Regions from separate parts of the Homo sapiens genome. Here all the other regions are linked to region 3. Evidence: fine-mapped expression QTL. A gene starts in region 3. Each other region holds a variant in brackets. All regions are shown on one strand. Distances are between the middles of the regions. Region 1 overlaps LRP11 (LDL receptor related protein 11). Region 2 overlaps TAB2 (TGF-beta activated kinase 1 (MAP3K7) binding protein 2). Region 3 holds the start of LRP11 (LDL receptor related protein 11).

What was found. PIP is the estimated chance that this variant, and not a neighbour inherited with it, causes the effect.
Region 1: its variant is fine-mapped to the expression of LRP11 in subcutaneous fat (GTEx, PIP above 0.99). The same link has a PIP of 0.9 or more in aorta, atrial appendage, coronary artery, esophagus mucosa, esophagus muscle and fibroblasts.
Region 2: its variant is fine-mapped to the expression of LRP11 in prefrontal cortex (GTEx, PIP above 0.99).

What each region holds. Positions count from the first base shown.
Region 1 is chr6:149,838,227-149,843,850 of GRCh38, forward strand. LRP11 (LDL receptor related protein 11) reads right to left here. Exons shown (of 7, transcript NM_032832.6): 3 at 4,757-4,898. RAET1E-LRP11 (RAET1E-LRP11 readthrough) reads right to left here. Exons shown (of 15, transcript NR_182438.1): 11 at 4,757-4,898. Among named protein-coding and RNA genes, the nearest start is that of RAET1E-AS1, 22 kb to the right of the region's middle. The variant C/T (reference allele first, on the strand shown) is at 2,199.
Region 2 is chr6:149,394,366-149,399,365 of GRCh38, forward strand. TAB2 (TGF-beta activated kinase 1 (MAP3K7) binding protein 2) reads left to right here. Exons shown (of 7, transcript NM_001292034.3): 4 at 3,239-3,399; 5 at 3,604-3,697; 6 at 4,739-4,819. Among named protein-coding and RNA genes, the nearest start is that of SUMO4, 3.4 kb to the right of the region's middle. The variant ACT/A (reference allele first, on the strand shown) is at 3,067.
Region 3 is chr6:149,861,866-149,867,489 of GRCh38, forward strand. It overlaps LRP11 (LDL receptor related protein 11), which reads right to left and starts at 2,494. Exons shown (of 7, transcript NM_032832.6): 1 at 1,543-2,494. The coding sequence starts at 2,155. RAET1E-LRP11 (RAET1E-LRP11 readthrough) reads right to left here. Exons shown (of 15, transcript NR_182438.1): 8 at 3,351-3,479; 9 at 3,020-3,132. It overlaps RAET1E-AS1 (RAET1E antisense RNA 1), which reads left to right and starts at 1,633. Exons shown (of 2, transcript NR_045126.1): 1 at 1,633-2,517. RefSeq lists silencers at 1,499-1,648, 1,819-1,928, 2,069-2,128, 2,199-2,648 and an enhancer at 2,305-2,805.

The sequences.
Region 1 (5,624 bases), 24 kb before region 3:
CTATTTTACATATGCTATGTCTTACATTCTTGTCTCCTAAGTAATACTTTTCACTGAGATTAAGTTTTTACTATTGAATCCTATTTGTTGATTATCATAACGTCCCTGGTACTGTAGAGAATAAACAAAATTTAGTTATGGGCTGGCATGAATTTAGTTTCATGAAATAATGACATTGGCCAGGCGTGGTGGCTCACACCTGTAATCCCAGCACTTTGGGAAGCTAAGGCGGGTGGATCACAAGGTCAGGAGATCGAGACCATCCTGGCTAACACGGTGAAACCCCGTCTCTACTAAAAATACAAAAAATTAGCCGGGCTTGGTGGCATGCACCTGTAGTCCCAGGTACTCGGGAGGCTGAGACAGGAGAATCACTTGAGTCTGGGAGGCAGAGGTTGCAGTGAGCCAAGATTGTGACACTGCACTCCAGCCTGGGCGACAGAGGGAGACTCTGTCTCAAAAAAAAAAAAAAAGAAAGAAATAACGACATTTCTCCCTTCTGGAGTTCTTAGGAGCTTTTAATTTGCAGTGCAATTCATAGGAGCTACAAATATTTTCCTGAAATGCATTTTCCCTCTCCCTTGATTAAGCCAACTTTATTAGACTTAGCTAGAGGAGAACCGGGTGACTATCTGGTACTGGCAACATGGACTAAGGCACAAGGCTAGAAGCAGGTCACAGGAGCTCCACGGTTTTACAGGGACAGAGTGGACTAGACAATTCTCTCAGGAACATGGGGAAGTGGCAGATTATATGATATTCCTTCAAAACCAAATGGCTGAGCACAGTTCACAAACCCAAGTGAAATCTTGGACATACACTTGGTTTTTTTTTGTTTTTTTTTTTTTTGTAGATACAGGGTGTCACTATGTTGCCCAGGCTGGTCTTGAACTACTGGACTCAAGCAATCCTCCTGCCTCAGCCTCCCAAAGTGCTGAGATTACAGGTGTAAGCCACTGCGCCCGGCCTTGGACACATCTTTTATTGAAACGTGGTTAAATCAAGAGGTTGGAAAAGGAGTCTATCTTGGTGTGAGGCAATTTGAAGATATATTGATCCAGGAGGAAGAGAAGTTAAAGAAAATAAATGGTGATAGAAGCTCCTGCGGAAGAAGAGGAAGCAAAGAGCCTGCAGTTATGACTGAGAACATGGGCCTGAAGGAGAGTCAGCTCCGGCCACTGGGAAGAAGCAGGGAGCGGAGGTGGGGGACACGCTGGATATCAAGCAGGATACAGTTCCTCGTCAGGTTTCTTAAATTCATGGCATGAAAATCCCAGATATCTCAAGGTTTTATTTATTCTTTGGTGATTTTGGAGATGGATCCATATTTGTAAATTTTCTATCTATTTTTGGATTAGCAGCCTCCAAACTTTTTTGATCATGCATCCTGATCAATAATATATTGTTGAACAGGCATCTCCAGTTTATTTATTTATCTATTTATTTGAGACGGAGTCTCGCTGTGTCGCCCAGGCTGGAGTGCGGTGGCACAATCTCAGCTCACTGCAGCCTCCAGCTCCCAGGCTCAACTGACTCTCATGTCTCAGCCTCCTGAGTAGCTGGGATTACAGGCGTGTCCCACCACATCCGGCTAGTCCGGTTTATTTATAAATAATACGTGCATACTACTGTACTAACATGGGGTGTATCTTATAAAATATACTCAAATTTTAAGGAAAAAAATTAAAAATCAGCAAAAATATAAACTCTGCTGTCTTCTTTCTCACCCTAAAAATGTCTTGAACAACTCAGGGGCATCCTGTTTGGAGACTGCTGAGTTAGATCATGTTGGAAGAGCTTGCTGGCTTGCTGTTTGATCATTTTTCTAAGCATGAAAAATGTTCAAAATGTCAACTTATTAAAAATTGAACCAAGTTATGATCATATAAGCAGGGTACCTGCTCATCTGTCTACCTCAGCTAGTGTCACCCTTGGTTACCATAACATCTGGGTCATTCATTGCAAGACCAATACATACAATGCAGGGGAGGGAAACACTTGTCTCTTCTACCTCTATTTTCCAATGTCTCTCTGTGGTGTTTTATTAACTTTAATTCATAGCATGTTATTCCAATATAACCACTAAGTGATTCTAGACAGCAGTTAGTACTTCACCAATTCCTTTTTATTTTCCATATAAAGTTACCCACACAAGACCTATACTCAAGCGGCCACTGAGTAATCAAAAATGATTCACA[C/T]ACCACTCTCTGCTACTTCAAATACAGTTTATTATCATCTTGGAGAAGGGCCAGAAATTTACAGCTGGCAATTTACCTCTGGAGCCCGGAAAGCTGCCTGAGGAAATAAACCAGGACAAACAAGTGGCCGGTGAGGTGCTGGCCATCTGCTCATATCAGTGCAGGCCCTTCCTCCCTCCCAGGCACTTCAGCTGTACAAGAGCAATCCTTTTCTGATTTCTGTGGGGATGACAGGGTATCTGTGTCTTTTTCCCAAGAGTCCCTTCCTCCCAGAGTCAGCACTTGACTCAGACCCTGTCCAGGTGAGTCCCGGTACCCAGGGGGAAAGCCCTCTAGAGGGCGCCCAGATCTACAGAAGTGAGCCATCCCTGCTGGAGACAATGTCATGTCTCCACTGGTCCTGGTGGCCAAGGGACCAATGATGTTTTGAGTAGCTGCCCAGCAAAGGGACTCAACAATGTTTTGAGTAGCTGGCTGGCTCTCCTGTCCAGCTGCAATGAATTAGCAGGGCTGATGGAATCCGGGCTGAGCTGGACAGACTGTTTACTCGCTATCACTGGTGACCTCACAGTGCTGGCACGGGCTGGAGTTTGGTGCCTGTCCTGTCTGTGAATGGTTACCCTGCTTCCTTACAGTAAGCTTAACCCCTGGCTGGACAGGTTGTCATCAGCCAAACAAATTTTTAATGCCGCCTATGAAAATTATCAAAGTTGACAAGTCCTTAGGATCCTAAAATCTCTAACTCCTTAGAAAATTTCATTTCCAGTATGCATACTAACCTCAGTTTTTGATAGAAGGCTAGATCCAATATAGTACAAGTAAATCACAGTCCTGTTCCAACTCTTTTATCCTCATTCTGCACTCTGCTGGCTTAATTACCATCTGGATCCTGAGTATTGAATACTGAGAATTCAAAAATGTCACAGACTTACTGCAAGTTTACCAGAGTCAGGGACCACCAGTGCACCACTCTATCCCCAGTGCCTGGCAAGGACCCTGCACACTGCATACACTAAGAAAATACACGATGACCGAGTAACAGGATATTTAAATGTACAAGACCTTAGCACCTCTCCAGAAGTGAATTGTGTGTGTGGTGAGGGGTTCCCTCTACAATACTACAATATCTTTAGTGTCGCTAAGTTCCATGCAATGGATATTTTAAAAAATTTGATGACCTAATCTTTCTTAGACATGTAGACGTTGGGCTGGGCGCGGTGGTTCACGCCTGTAGTCTAAGTGCTTCGGGAGGCTGAGGCGGGTGGATCACCTGAGGTCAGGAATTCGAGACCAGGTTGGCCAACATGGTGAAACCCTGTCTCTACTAAAAATACAAAATTAGCAGGGCGTGGTGGTGCACACCTGTAGTCCCAGCTACTTGGGAGGCTGAGGCAGGAGAATCACTTGAACCCAGGAGGCAGAGGCTGCAGTGAGCCGAGACTGCACCACTGCACTCCCACTCCAGCCTAGGCAACAAGAGCAAAACTCCCTCTCAAAAAAAAAATGTAGATGTTTAGAAAAGTAAGAAACATAGATGAATGAAATAAGTTTTACATTGTTACATTGTACAACAGAATGTGAGAACCATCATATGTATTTAAAGTTATATTATTAATATAACTGCATCTGCGTAAAGTGTCTATGAAAATGTGTAGGTAGCACTTTCAAATTGATGGGTCCTTTGCGTATTTCAATTAATTTTAACCGTACTCCTTAGCTGCACTCTTTTTCTCTTTCTAAAATTTTTGAAGTGACTTATTATATCAGCAATTGATTACACCCAAGAGCCAAGTCTTTCTTCAATCCTGTGGTATGCCTTTTCCTTGTTTTTTTAATATGTATTTTTAATTGACAAAAGAGGAGAGTATATATTTATGAGGCACAATGTGATGTTTTGATATATGTTTGCATTGTGGAATGATTACATCAAGCTAACTGACATATCTATCATCTCCCCTACTTGTAATCTTTTTGTGATGACAACATTTAAAACCTACTGTTTTAGCAATTTTGAAACAGACAATACATTATCATTAACTATAGTCACCATGCTGTGCAACAGATCACCAGAACCTGTTCCTCCGGTCTCAGTGACACTTTGTACCCTTTGACCAGCGTCTCTCCTTTCCCAGTCCGTCCCCCGCACAGCCTCCAGTAACCGCCATTCCACTCTCTGCTTCCACGAGTTCAACTGGTTTCACTAAACTCCTTAGCTTCCCTCTTGGAACAGATGCAGCAAATGGACCATCCATCTGTAAACAAAGTCCTCTCCCAGAATAGCCAAGCAATTGTCTTTGATGAAGTCGAGTCAAGAGAAGCGGGAGCATCTCTTCTCATCCCCTGGAGTGCTTCCTCCACCCCAACCCAGTAGCATCGGCTAAGCCCAAAACAGAAGAGAGCCTGCTTTTGTTATTGTGTTTTTAGCAAAGACTCTCTCATTCAGCAATAACCAAAAATAAAATGGAAGAGCCCATGGAGCGCAGAGCCAGAGGACAAAGCGCCAACCCGACATTGCCTTCCACAAGCAGTGGGAAGCGAGGGAAGGACTTTCTTCTCACCTCCTGTGGAGTAGGCTGCGCGAAGCACTGTCACTGACACGTTGTCAGAGCTTCTCTGCCCGGCAGTGTCCGTCACGGTCAGCTGGAAGGTGTAGGTTCCCTCCTGTAGGTGGGACAGCTTCAGGGTTCCTGATTGAGGCACCTGCCACACAGATGGGACACATCACGTCGAGCAGCAGACTTGAGCTCCGAGCCCAACACCATCCTCAACCGAAAGTCCATGTCCTCAGAGCAGCCCCAGGACCTGCCTCTGCACTCCGGCCCGAGGCTGCTGAACTACATCACACACTGTTGGCAGCTGGCCCACCTTGAACTCATAAGTTCTAGTTTATTTAGGTGGCCAAGGCCTTGACTGACAATCCCTTCACTTGTCTGCAGCAGTTGCTGCTCCAAACCTGCACCTCATCCCCAGCCTCACGCTCAGGATCCAGGCCCTGCCGTCTCAGCAGGGGGACTCATCAGCTTCAGGGAGAAAATCAGGACCATGACTAGGGCTCCACCACCCACCTCCTCCTGGTACCCTACCTGTACCCACTGTCACTTCCTTCTGACAGCCAGCAGGGAGAAGCTGTCCCTCCTGTGTTCCAGGCCAACCCCTCCTTCTAGTCCTTGCCCCCTTTCTTTCTAGGACCTTTAGAACACTGACACATCGACTCATTTCTCTTTCAAATGGCTCTGCTATTACTATGCTCAAGTTTCTCTCATCCTAAGAAACAAACAAAACAACAAATAAAAAAAATTCCCTGAGCTCTAAGGGCTCACCAGCCACAGCCCCGCTTCCTTCCCATCTCCACTTGGCTCCCTGAAAGGCCTGGCTGTGCCGTGCTTGCTGTTTCTGTTTGCTCACTTCCCATTTAGTCTTCGCCCA
Region 2 (5,000 bases), 470 kb before region 3:
AATCATAGTTACATCTTTAAGTTTTCTGTCAGGTAATTCCAGCTGCATCATCTTTGAGTATAGTTCTGTTGATCACTTTATCTCTTGATGATGAATTACATTTTTCTCCTGCTTGTATGTCTCATAATTTTTTATTGAATGCCACACACTATGTGTAAAGGAACAGAGGAGACTAAAGTAAATGGTATTTGCACCCAGAAATGAGGACATCTCTTTTTCTTTCAGGTTATTATTATGAGGCATTGCATCAATTTAGTCAGGAGTGGAGCTGGGTTTGGGTTTTGTTGTTGCCTTCAGTGCACCACAGTCTTCAGATACTTCCAGCAATTGACTGCTATTACTTTATGCTTCTTAGAGTAGTGCCTGAAGTGCAAGATATTTATTTTGAGTCCTTTTATTTTGAACCTGTCTGTGCTATGATAGATCCCCATTTTATTCAGAGTCCTTAATATGGTCAGCAAGGCTCTACGTGATCTGGTAGAGGGCCAGATAGTAATCATTTAGGATTTTGTAGGCCACATAATCTCTGTCACAACTATTTAATTCTGCTGTTGTAAAATGGAAACAGCCATAGACAACAAGTAAACAAATGAGCAAGGCTGTATCCAATAAAACTTTAATGACGAAACAGGCAGTGGGCTAGATTTGGCCCATGGGCCATAGTTTGCCTACCTGTTTACCCTTTGTTTAGAGTCTTTCTCTTGCCCTACTCCCTGGCCCCAATCTCTGCTACCGTGGTAACGTGAGCTCCGCAAGGGCAAGGATTTTTTCCTATTTTGTTCATGGACTTCCAAAATGCCTACAACAACATCTGACACATAGACCCTCAACTTATTAAAATAATAGATAAGTTAATTATGTTTTGAGTGTTTTTTATAAGCAGCATATAGCTGAGGTTTTACAATTCAGTCTACTGATCTCATCTCAACAGATATGTTTAATTAGGTTGCATTCATTGTGATTTCTAGTATATTTGGAATTATCCCTGTCTGGTTTTTGTTTTGTATTTCTTTCCTTTATCCCCTCCTTTCCTGCTATCTAGGTTTAATTAAATTTCCCTCATTTCTCCTTAGGTTCTGTCTTTGAATTTAGAAACTGCACATTCTGTTTTAACTTCCTTTAGCACAGATCCCTAAATACTGAACATGTATATTTGGCTTAGCAACATTTAACTGTATTCTTCTTAAATACCTTCAAGACCTTAGAATACTTCACCTCTGATTTTTGCACTTCCAGTGTATTGTTATTCTTTTCCAATGTTTTATTTTCACTTTGTTTTAGACAATGTCTGCTGCTCCCCTGCCCTGCCATAGTCTTTTCCTTTGTTTTATTGTCAGAGCTTTTTTTTTTTAGATTTACTCATCTTATTCCATTCTTTTGTGTTTAATTTCCTTCTTATCAGAACATATATTGAGTAGTTATTTCAGCAGCTATCTGTGATTGTTGAATTTCCCCAGACTTTGTTGGAAATACCTTTATTCATTTGTATTCTTGTATAATTTAATTAGGTGAACAAATTATTTTATCTTCTAAAATTTGTTACTTCCTTTTTTCCCTTCAATTTTGAAACATTTTCAGCCAATATCTCTTCACATCTTGCCTCTTGTCTATTCTCTCTGTTGTCTCCTTCTGGAATTCTTTTCTCTCTCTGTCTCCCCCTACCCGCCCCCGAGTTGGAGTCTCACTCTGTCATCCAGGCTGGAGTGCAGTGGTGTGATCTCGGCTTACTGCAACCTCTGCCTCCCGGGTTCAAGCAATTCTCCTGCCTCAGCCTCCCAAGTAGCTGGGATTACAGGCATCCACCACCACGCCCGGCAACTTTTTGTATTTTTAGTAGAAACGAGGTTTCACCATGTTGGCCAGTCTGGTCTCGAACTCCTGACCTCAGATGATCCACCCTTCTCGGCCTCCCCAAAGTGCTGGAGTTACAGGTGTGAGCCACCATGCCCAGCCTGGAATTTTTTTCTTAGATGTCTGTGAGACCTTTCAGAACTCTTCTTTCATTTTTTCTGTCACATTATCTGTGCATTCTGGGTAACATTCTTACATCTATCTGACAGGTCACCAACTGTCTTTGTATGTAATCTACTGTAATCTGTTTGGCTTTTTCATTTCAGTGACTTTTATTTCTAGAGGTTGTTTAAAGTTCTTTTCCAAATCTGCTTTATTTTTCTCAAGATAGAATCATCCCATGTTGTTTCTTTATAAAAAGTAGATTCAAGTATCTTCACTTCCAGTCCAGTATCCTAAAGGATGAGATTCATGTCCAGGGACAGATCACAAAAACATATACCAGTATTTGTAGTTTATTATGGTTTCCCAAGTAGTTCATGCTGCAGGATTGATTGCTTATTTTGTTTCTTTAAAGATCTTGGAAGATATTTTCACAAAATATAATCTGAATATACAAAAATATAAGTGGCAATTGGGATAATTTAATGTTAACATTTATGTGGAGTGAAATCAATCTGCCTGTTTTATTTGTTGCATACATCAAAATGGATTCTACATTCCCTTCTAAAATATCTATAACATTTTCATATTAGAATGCTTCATTCATAGACCAAACATGACAAACTCTGAAGTAAGAGAGCTTGTCCTTTCCGAGGGTAGATGTGAATTAGATACAGTAGTAAGTAGGTTAACTGAAAAGACGAAAACCTTTAGAGAAGCTGTAGCCTAAAAATGCTGTCTTCATTCATAAAGTGAATTTCTCCAAATCCTAGAAAACATTTAAAAAGTGGCATTTGTTTAAATGACTAAAACAATTTTTCAGTTAAAATGTTTGGAATTTGGCCAGGCACAGTGGCACAAGCCTCTAATCCCAGCACTTTGGTAGGCCAAGGCAGGCGGATCACCTGGGGTCCAGAGTTCGAGACCAGCCTGACCAACATGGTGAAACCTCATCTCTACTAAAAATACAAAATTAGTGGGGTGTGGTGGCAGTTGCCCATAATCCCAGCTACTTGGGAGGCTGAGGCAGGAGAATCACTTGAACCCAGGAGGCAGAGGTTGCACTGAGCCGAGATCGCACCATTGCACTCCAGCCTGAGCAACAAGAGTAAA[ACT/A]CTGTGTCAAAAAAAAAAAAAAATTGAAATTTTAAATGCCTAAACTTACAATATTTTGTTTTAATGTAGCTTTGGGATTTCTGACAAATTCTTGTTTGCTTTTCCAAGTCTGCTTAAAGGTTAATTGATTAAAGTGGGTGGGTCCTCATGTTTACTAATGTGTGTTGCAGCTCTTTTGGTACACCAGAAGGCCAGAATGGAACGACTTCAAAGAGAACTTGAGATTCAAAAGAAAAAGCTGGATAAATTAAAATCTGAGGTTAATGAAATGGAAAATAATCTAACTCGAAGGCGCCTGAAAAGATCAAATTCTATATCCCAGATACCTTCCGTAAGTCTTTATGTAACTGTTGTGATCTCTGCTTGAACATGAGAGTAGGCCATCTAACATAAGTGTAATATCTCTATCTAGTTTTCTTCAGATGTTCTTAACTCTTGTTTTTCTGTCCTTACTTTCTTGTGCCAAACTCCATTCTTTATTAACTAATGACTAAGAATTCAGTGCAAATCTTACTTACATAGAATTATTTTTCAGCTTGAAGAAATGCAGCAGCTGAGAAGTTGTAATAGACAACTCCAGATTGACATTGACTGCTTAACCAAAGAAATTGATCTTTTTCAAGCCCGAGGTAAAGTTCAGTGTATTTGTAGCTGAAATTCATCGTATTTAATTCACCAGCAGTTTTTCTGTGGCTAAAAACAGACTTATCAATCATAATCTTACTGTCTCAGAACATGTGGCTTTGGAGCCAGACAGACTTTTAAGAATATATTTAAAAAGTCACCCCCATCTCAATGGCACTATCTTAACTGATAAAATATAGAAGATAGTAAAAATAAGGTTTATACATTCTTTAGACAATGATAGTTTCTTATACTTGAGCTATTAATGACAAGCAATGTTTTCTTATAGTAAATAATGTTTACAATTTAATTCAGTTCCATAGAGAACTAAAAGGAAATGTTATCACTTAAACCTAATTCTGAAGTTGGATAAATAATAAAAAGATATAAAATGGAAAAGACAGGAAGGGGAAGGAATCTAACCAAAAGAGAAGTCTTTAATCACACTTGGGACTGTGTTCTAGAATCTGTTCAACTGGAAGATGATTATTTTTATTTTTATTCTTTTTAAATGTTGATTAAGCTATTTATCTTTAAACATTCATAGAAAAATACCATAATTTAACTCTAAAAAGTTGGTGCTGTTCTAGAAACTACAATCCTTGAACTTACTCTTTTTGTGTAAAATTTTAACCATTCTATTACATAGTGCAAGGTTTTTATATTTACTTGAGGTAAAGCTGTTTAGTTACTTAAGTCCATGTTTGATCGTTTAAAATTACATTTTAAATTGTGAAATTTTAAGTTATTTTAACTTGCCACATAGAACAGGGATCTACTTCTACTTCTATTAATGTCTTACCAGCATTAATTTGACTTCTTTCACAGTTTACCACTTACCCGTGTTTATGAGTACTACATTATACCTAAGATAATATATTTGAAATATGTTTTGAAATCTTACATATAATTCGAGGTTAGAGGGGCAAAATAAATGAAAAGCATTTCTTATAGCGTGTTTATTTTTAGAAAGAAATACTTGTTTTAAAAAGTAAAGTTGTTTTTGAGCTATAAGCATTGATATATTTACTTTTTATATATTTCAGGACCACATTTTAACCCCAGCGCTATTCATAACTTTTATGACAATATTGGATTTGTAGGTCCTGTGCCACCAAAACCCAAAGGTTAGTGTATCCATTAAATGTGAAAACTGTTACTTTTGAAAAGCAAAATTTTAGAAAATTTTTCCTGTTCAGCAACCTTCCTCTCTAGAATTGCTTCAAACTTTGGCATTCTTAAATGAATTCATTAAGAAGATGTTTGCTTATTTTCATTTACATGCTTGGGGTTGGGAAGGATGCAAAG
Region 3 (5,624 bases):
TTCCTTGTTTATTTTCCTTTTCAAAGGTTTCCTCTGGGTTTATAGGAAAGCTCACTTTGGCAATGTCAGTTTCTTCCAGGTAAGTAGTGAGAACACAGAGAAAAGACTTTGTTTCTTTGCTGCTGGGATATTTTGGTCTGTGTTTGGGCAGAGAGGATGTGTGTGCAACAGCCGTGGTGGGCCTCAGAGATGCTGATGGGGGGTCCAAGTGAAAGTGCTGCCTGCCTCCACTTCAGAAGGAAAGCTATGGAGTCCTTCCCAGTGTTTGCCTCAAGGCCAAGCAGTCGCAGGGTGACCCTTTGATATCTGCTCCCCTGACAAGGATTCTGAGCCTCATCTAAGGTAGAGGTGGGGAGGGAGGCAGGATGTGATGGACACAGATTTCCAGACTCTTTCAATGGATCCACAGGTTTTGGAGAATCCACACTTCCAAAGGGGCTGAGCTCCGCCCCCATCTTGCTGATATCATTCGTGCTATTATAAATCAAACAGCAACAGGGCATGATTAAACACACGGAGCCTGACCACACGTGGGCACAATCAAGGTCTCTTATTCCCTCCGTGACATTCATGTCCAACCACTACCATTTTTGTGCCTCCTGTATGTGTCCTGATTCTCTCATTCAGAGCATCTACAAAAAGTCAAACCGTCGAATCAGCATCATTTTTAGTCCTTAAGAAACACGCTTTAAAGTTTCCTATTTTCTTTTCCTTTTTTTTTTTTTTTTTTTAAGATGGAGTTTCGCTCTTGTTGCCCAGGCTGGAGTGCAATGGCGCGATCTCGGCTCACTGCAACCTCCGCCTCCTAGGTTCAAGCGATTCTCCTGCCTCAGCCTCCCGAATAGCTGGGATTACAGGCGCATGCCACCAGCTCTGGCTAATTTTTGTATTTTTAGTAGAGATGGGGTTTCATCACATTGGTCAGGCAGGTCTCAAACTCCTGACCTCAGGTGATCCGCCCTCCTCGGCCTCCCAAAGTGCTGGGATTACAGGCATAAGCCACCACGCCCGGCCTTAAAGTTTCTTATTTTCAACGAAAATCAAGTCCCCTCTTTTCACTTTTTATAAAAGGGACCAGAAGTTTTCCTCCCATTTTTGTATGATGAAAGCCACCGCAGGCAAAGTCAGGAGAGCCACGTCAAGAAAAAGGAGTGGGTGTTACGAGAAGCCCGGCATCTAATTAGATTTTGCTCTTGCAATTACTTAACACAAACCATGCCTTATACAACCCATGAGACTAAAACAAACTTTTTTCTCTCAGCATTTCTCCCCTTTTAAGTCATATTTCCACGAATCCTCTCAGATCAGCCTTTCTCTTCAAGCCTAGAAAAATTCCAGTAGCACGTCACCGCGCCCGCCCGCCCGCTTCTGCCAAACTACTGGGCTTCCTCTTCCCTAAGACAGAGAAACCCATGCCAGAAACTCTTCTGGGTGCCCGCGGCTAAAATAACTTGGCACGAGTGTGTTTCGCTTCCAACTTGGCGAGGGCGCTGCGGGTCTCGAGCGCTCTGGCCAAGGCCGGCCCCTCAGTCGCGCGCTTACCCTGCCGGGGCGAGGCGCGCGCGGTGGCCAGGGCGGCGCCGTCCGGCGCGCGGCTGAGGCTGTAGCTGCTGTAGCCGCTGTGCAGCGCGAACTTGCAGACGTTGCGGCCGCGCGCCGTGCAGTTGAAGAGGTAGCAGCCGAGCACGGCTGCCGGGGGCGCGGGGCGCCGGGGCAGCTCCACCACGGCCACGGAGCAGCGCGGCTCGGAGCAGCAGGCCGCCACGCATTGCCGCCAGCCCCGCACGGCCGCCGGCGCCCGCAGGAAGCTGGCACCCGCCGCCAGGGAGTCCTTGGTGCGGATGATGGCGTCAGGCATTGCGCTGTAGCCGCCGCTGCCCGGGCCCGGGCAGTCCTCCTGGGGGCCGCCGCCCGCGCGCAGCTCCAGCTCCAGCTCCTCCTGAGGCCGCTCCTGCTGCAGTTGCCGGCGGAACTCCTCCAGCAGCTGCTCCACGCCCGACAGCTGCGCGTGCAGTTCGGACAGCGGCGCCGCGGGCGGCAAGGCCGCACGGCCGCTTGGCAGCCACAGGCAGAGCAGTAGCAGCCCGCGCAGCGCCCCGTGACGCGGCGGTAGCCGGCGCTGCGAGCCCGCGCTCTCCTGGGCGACGGAGGCCATGGCGACGAGAGCCAAGGGCAGCGAGCCGAGGCGGGGCTGAGCGCGGGAGGAAGGCGGGGACGCGGGCGAGCGCGGGCCCTGGGCCCCTCCTGCGCGGCCGCGGCTGGCTCTAGGCCCCGGCCTCACAGCGCGGCGCCCCCGAACCCGGCTGCTCCCCCGAGGTCGCGGGCGCCGGCGGGAACCGCAGTAGCGGGAGACATAGCCGGCCCAGCCGGGCACCGCTCCTTGCCCTCGCCGGAGACTGCCCAGCGCCCTGCGCCTCTCCGCCCCGGCCTGCGGCGCGCTGGGTGGCGACGAGTCGGCCTCGGCGTTGATCAGCACCAGGTGTGTGCGAACAGTGGCCGCGGCGGGGTGGAGCCTTGGTGAGCCCCGCCCCCCCGCGCGGCCCCGCCCCCGCGCGTCTCGCGCCGGCTCCTCCAGGGCTGGGAGAGCAGGCCCCGGGGAGGGCAGCCTCAGAACAACTTTGCTCCCGCGCCGCTGCCCAGCTAGGGCAGGGTTCATGTCTGGGCCCAGCAGGCTTTAGCAACCAACCACACCTGCCCAGGGCGCCTGCCCACAGGGGCTTGGCATTCGGGGGAATGGGGGCAGTGGGAAGGGAGGGCCTGTCTTCAAATCCTCGTGACCCCCGGGACTACTCCAGAGAGGGGGCACGCGCACCTAGGACCACCGTAGCGCGTCATCAGTCCTTCACCTCCAGCGTCCCTGACTTTCCGCATCATGTTCCCAAGATGTGCTTGGGTAGTACAAAGTGGGGCGGGGTTGGGGTGGCGGAGTCAGGGCCGGGAGGGGTGGGGATGGGAAGTACTGAAAGATGTTCAGTCTGTTTAAAAACACAAAAATCAAGCCTGGTGAGGTGGTACTCGCCTGTAAGTCCTGAGGCTGAGTTGGGAGGATGGCTTGGACCCAGGAGTTCGAGACTGCAATGAGCTGTGATCACACCACTGTACTCCAGCCTGGGGGACAGAACAAGACCCTGTCTTTAAAAATAAAAACAAAACCCATAAATAGCAGTCGTCACATGCACTCAGATTTCCACAAATATAACAAAAAATCTGAACACAGCCAACATGGGGACCTGGGAGTAATACAGCCTGTGACAGAGAGGCCTCTAGCGGTTATATCACGTAAAATCTCGGGAGTTGTGCTTTAAATGACATAAGGAATAAGAAAATGTCCAACCCAGTGGGGGCTTCACCTTGGCGTTCTAGACTTCTGTGAGCAGCATCTGCATCTTGTTTGTTTCTGAATCAGTTTCTGTTGATTCATTTTTCTCCTGATTGTGGATCGCATTTTCTTGCTTTTTAGCCTGTCCGGAAATTTTTGCCTGGATGCGCACATTGTAAATAGAACACTGTTAAGTGTCTGTATTTTTTAGGATTGAAAGAATAAATAATTGGTGGGAAAATATCAGTCTCTGCTATGTGTTTATTATCTCCAGAGTTGACATTTAGGAACCCATTGCTTGCAGATCCAGATCAGAGTAGGAGGTAAAATTAAAAGGTAGCAATAGAAAAGAAAGAAAAAAGCTCAATGTTACTTGCCATTCCATCAAAGGGAGAAATTATAAAGTTTTTGCAGGGGTATATTTGAGTGATTTTTGAGGCTAAAAGAAATGGCCTCTTAGCTCTAAAGGCTGTGTCTGGACTGTACCACTTCGGCCTGGAGATTCTTCCTCATATGGCATACTCATCCCACACAACTGCAGTCATTGTAAGATGACCTTGAAGCAACATAATGCTTTTTATTTTTTATTTTTATTTTTTGCCATAGACCTTGGAGAGCTTGAGCAGGATTGTTATGAGGAGAAACTTTCACTAGTGATGAAAATGCTGACTGAGGGTATCATCAAACCCTCCAAGGACTAGTTGTTATATAAGTTATTAATATTAAAAATAACATGATAATATATAATATTAACTAAGAATTGTACATGATTTCAAAGTTTGCCAAACACTTTCACATACATGATTTTATGTGCCTTCACAGAGACTTTGACCACCTCACTCCTGCCTTTGGGACCGTGAAAGAGAAGTCAGTATAGAGTGAGCCCTAGCTCACATGTTCCGTGGTAGGGAAGTGGACAGGGGAGAGGACAGCATTTCTCAGGGGCATTCATTTCTAAATCCCTCCAGCACCATCAAAGATTTTCCTGCATCTGCAACTTTACAATAGGTCTTTTTGGGAGAAGTGGAAATTATTTAATGTTGTGTTTACCGTGAGCAGTGGTTATTTCTGGGCTGTGAGTTGCAAGTACTGAAGGGGAAATACTGACTTTTATAATTTATAAGACTTTGTTGAATTTTTTTTTTGCAATGAGCTTGTTGTAAATGATTTTCTATTTTTTAAAAATAAGTGTTGACATCTGCTTCAGCCAGGAGGGAGCAACAAGGACTGGACTTACTCTGTGACCTGAAATGAAAAATCTGTGAAAAAAATGTATGGAACAATGGTTTTCAGACATTGGGCAACAGGCAATGCAGGGCCCAAGAGAAGGGAGACAAAGGAAGTGAACATGCTGCTTGCTCCAGCTTACTGCCTGGAGAGGGTTTCCAAGCCGCAATGCAGACAGGCGAACCAAAAGAGACTCTGAGTTGGAAAATAGAGCTGAGAATTCAGGGAGGCCAGGGTGGCTAGAGTACCAGAGAGGAGAGAGTGCAACGGAAGGAGGGAGCTCTGGAGATCTGTGCAGGGTTCCTCTGAGTCTTCAGCAGAAGTTCGACCAGGTACATGCATGTGAGGAAACTTCCCAAGACAGAGAGGCAACCACTAGAAAAAAGCTGGCAGAAAAACTTCTGAGCTTGCATTGGCCAGGCAATAGTTCGTTCCCAACAGCCAGAGTGGAGAAACCTTGTGACAAGAGGCATGAGTTTGAGTAGGAAGGGAAGGGATTACAGAGAAGCACATGAAAACTTTTGCAGGTGATAGGTGTGTTCATTACCTTGATTGTGGTGATGGTTTCACTGGTGAATACATTGATCAAAGTTCATCAAATTGTGTATTTTAAGTGGGTATAGTCAATTATATGTTAATAAGGCTATTTTTTAAAAACGAAGTTTCATTGCACTGTGCATTGTGATTTATCTTCTTTTTCTAGTTCTCTTTTCAGTTTTTTTCAGAAATAAACTATCTTTGTTTTAAAAGCCTAAACATCAAAACCTTATCAATGGATAGAAGAATTTTTATGTGAGGATGAAAATGTCAGGAAGATGTGTTTCTGTTTTATAAGATAGATCATTAAGAGTAAGAGTGGATCAAATTGAGATTGGACTTCGTAGGTCAGTTTGTTGAATGTTGGAATGAGATAACCTGTGTCTTAGCTGGGCTGCTGTAACAGAATACCACAGACTGGGAGGCTTCTAAACAACAGAAATTTATTCCTCACAATTCTAGTGGCTGAGAAGTTCAAGATCATGGTGCTGGCAGACGCTGATATCTGGTGAGGGCCCACTTCCTGGTTCATAGACAGCAG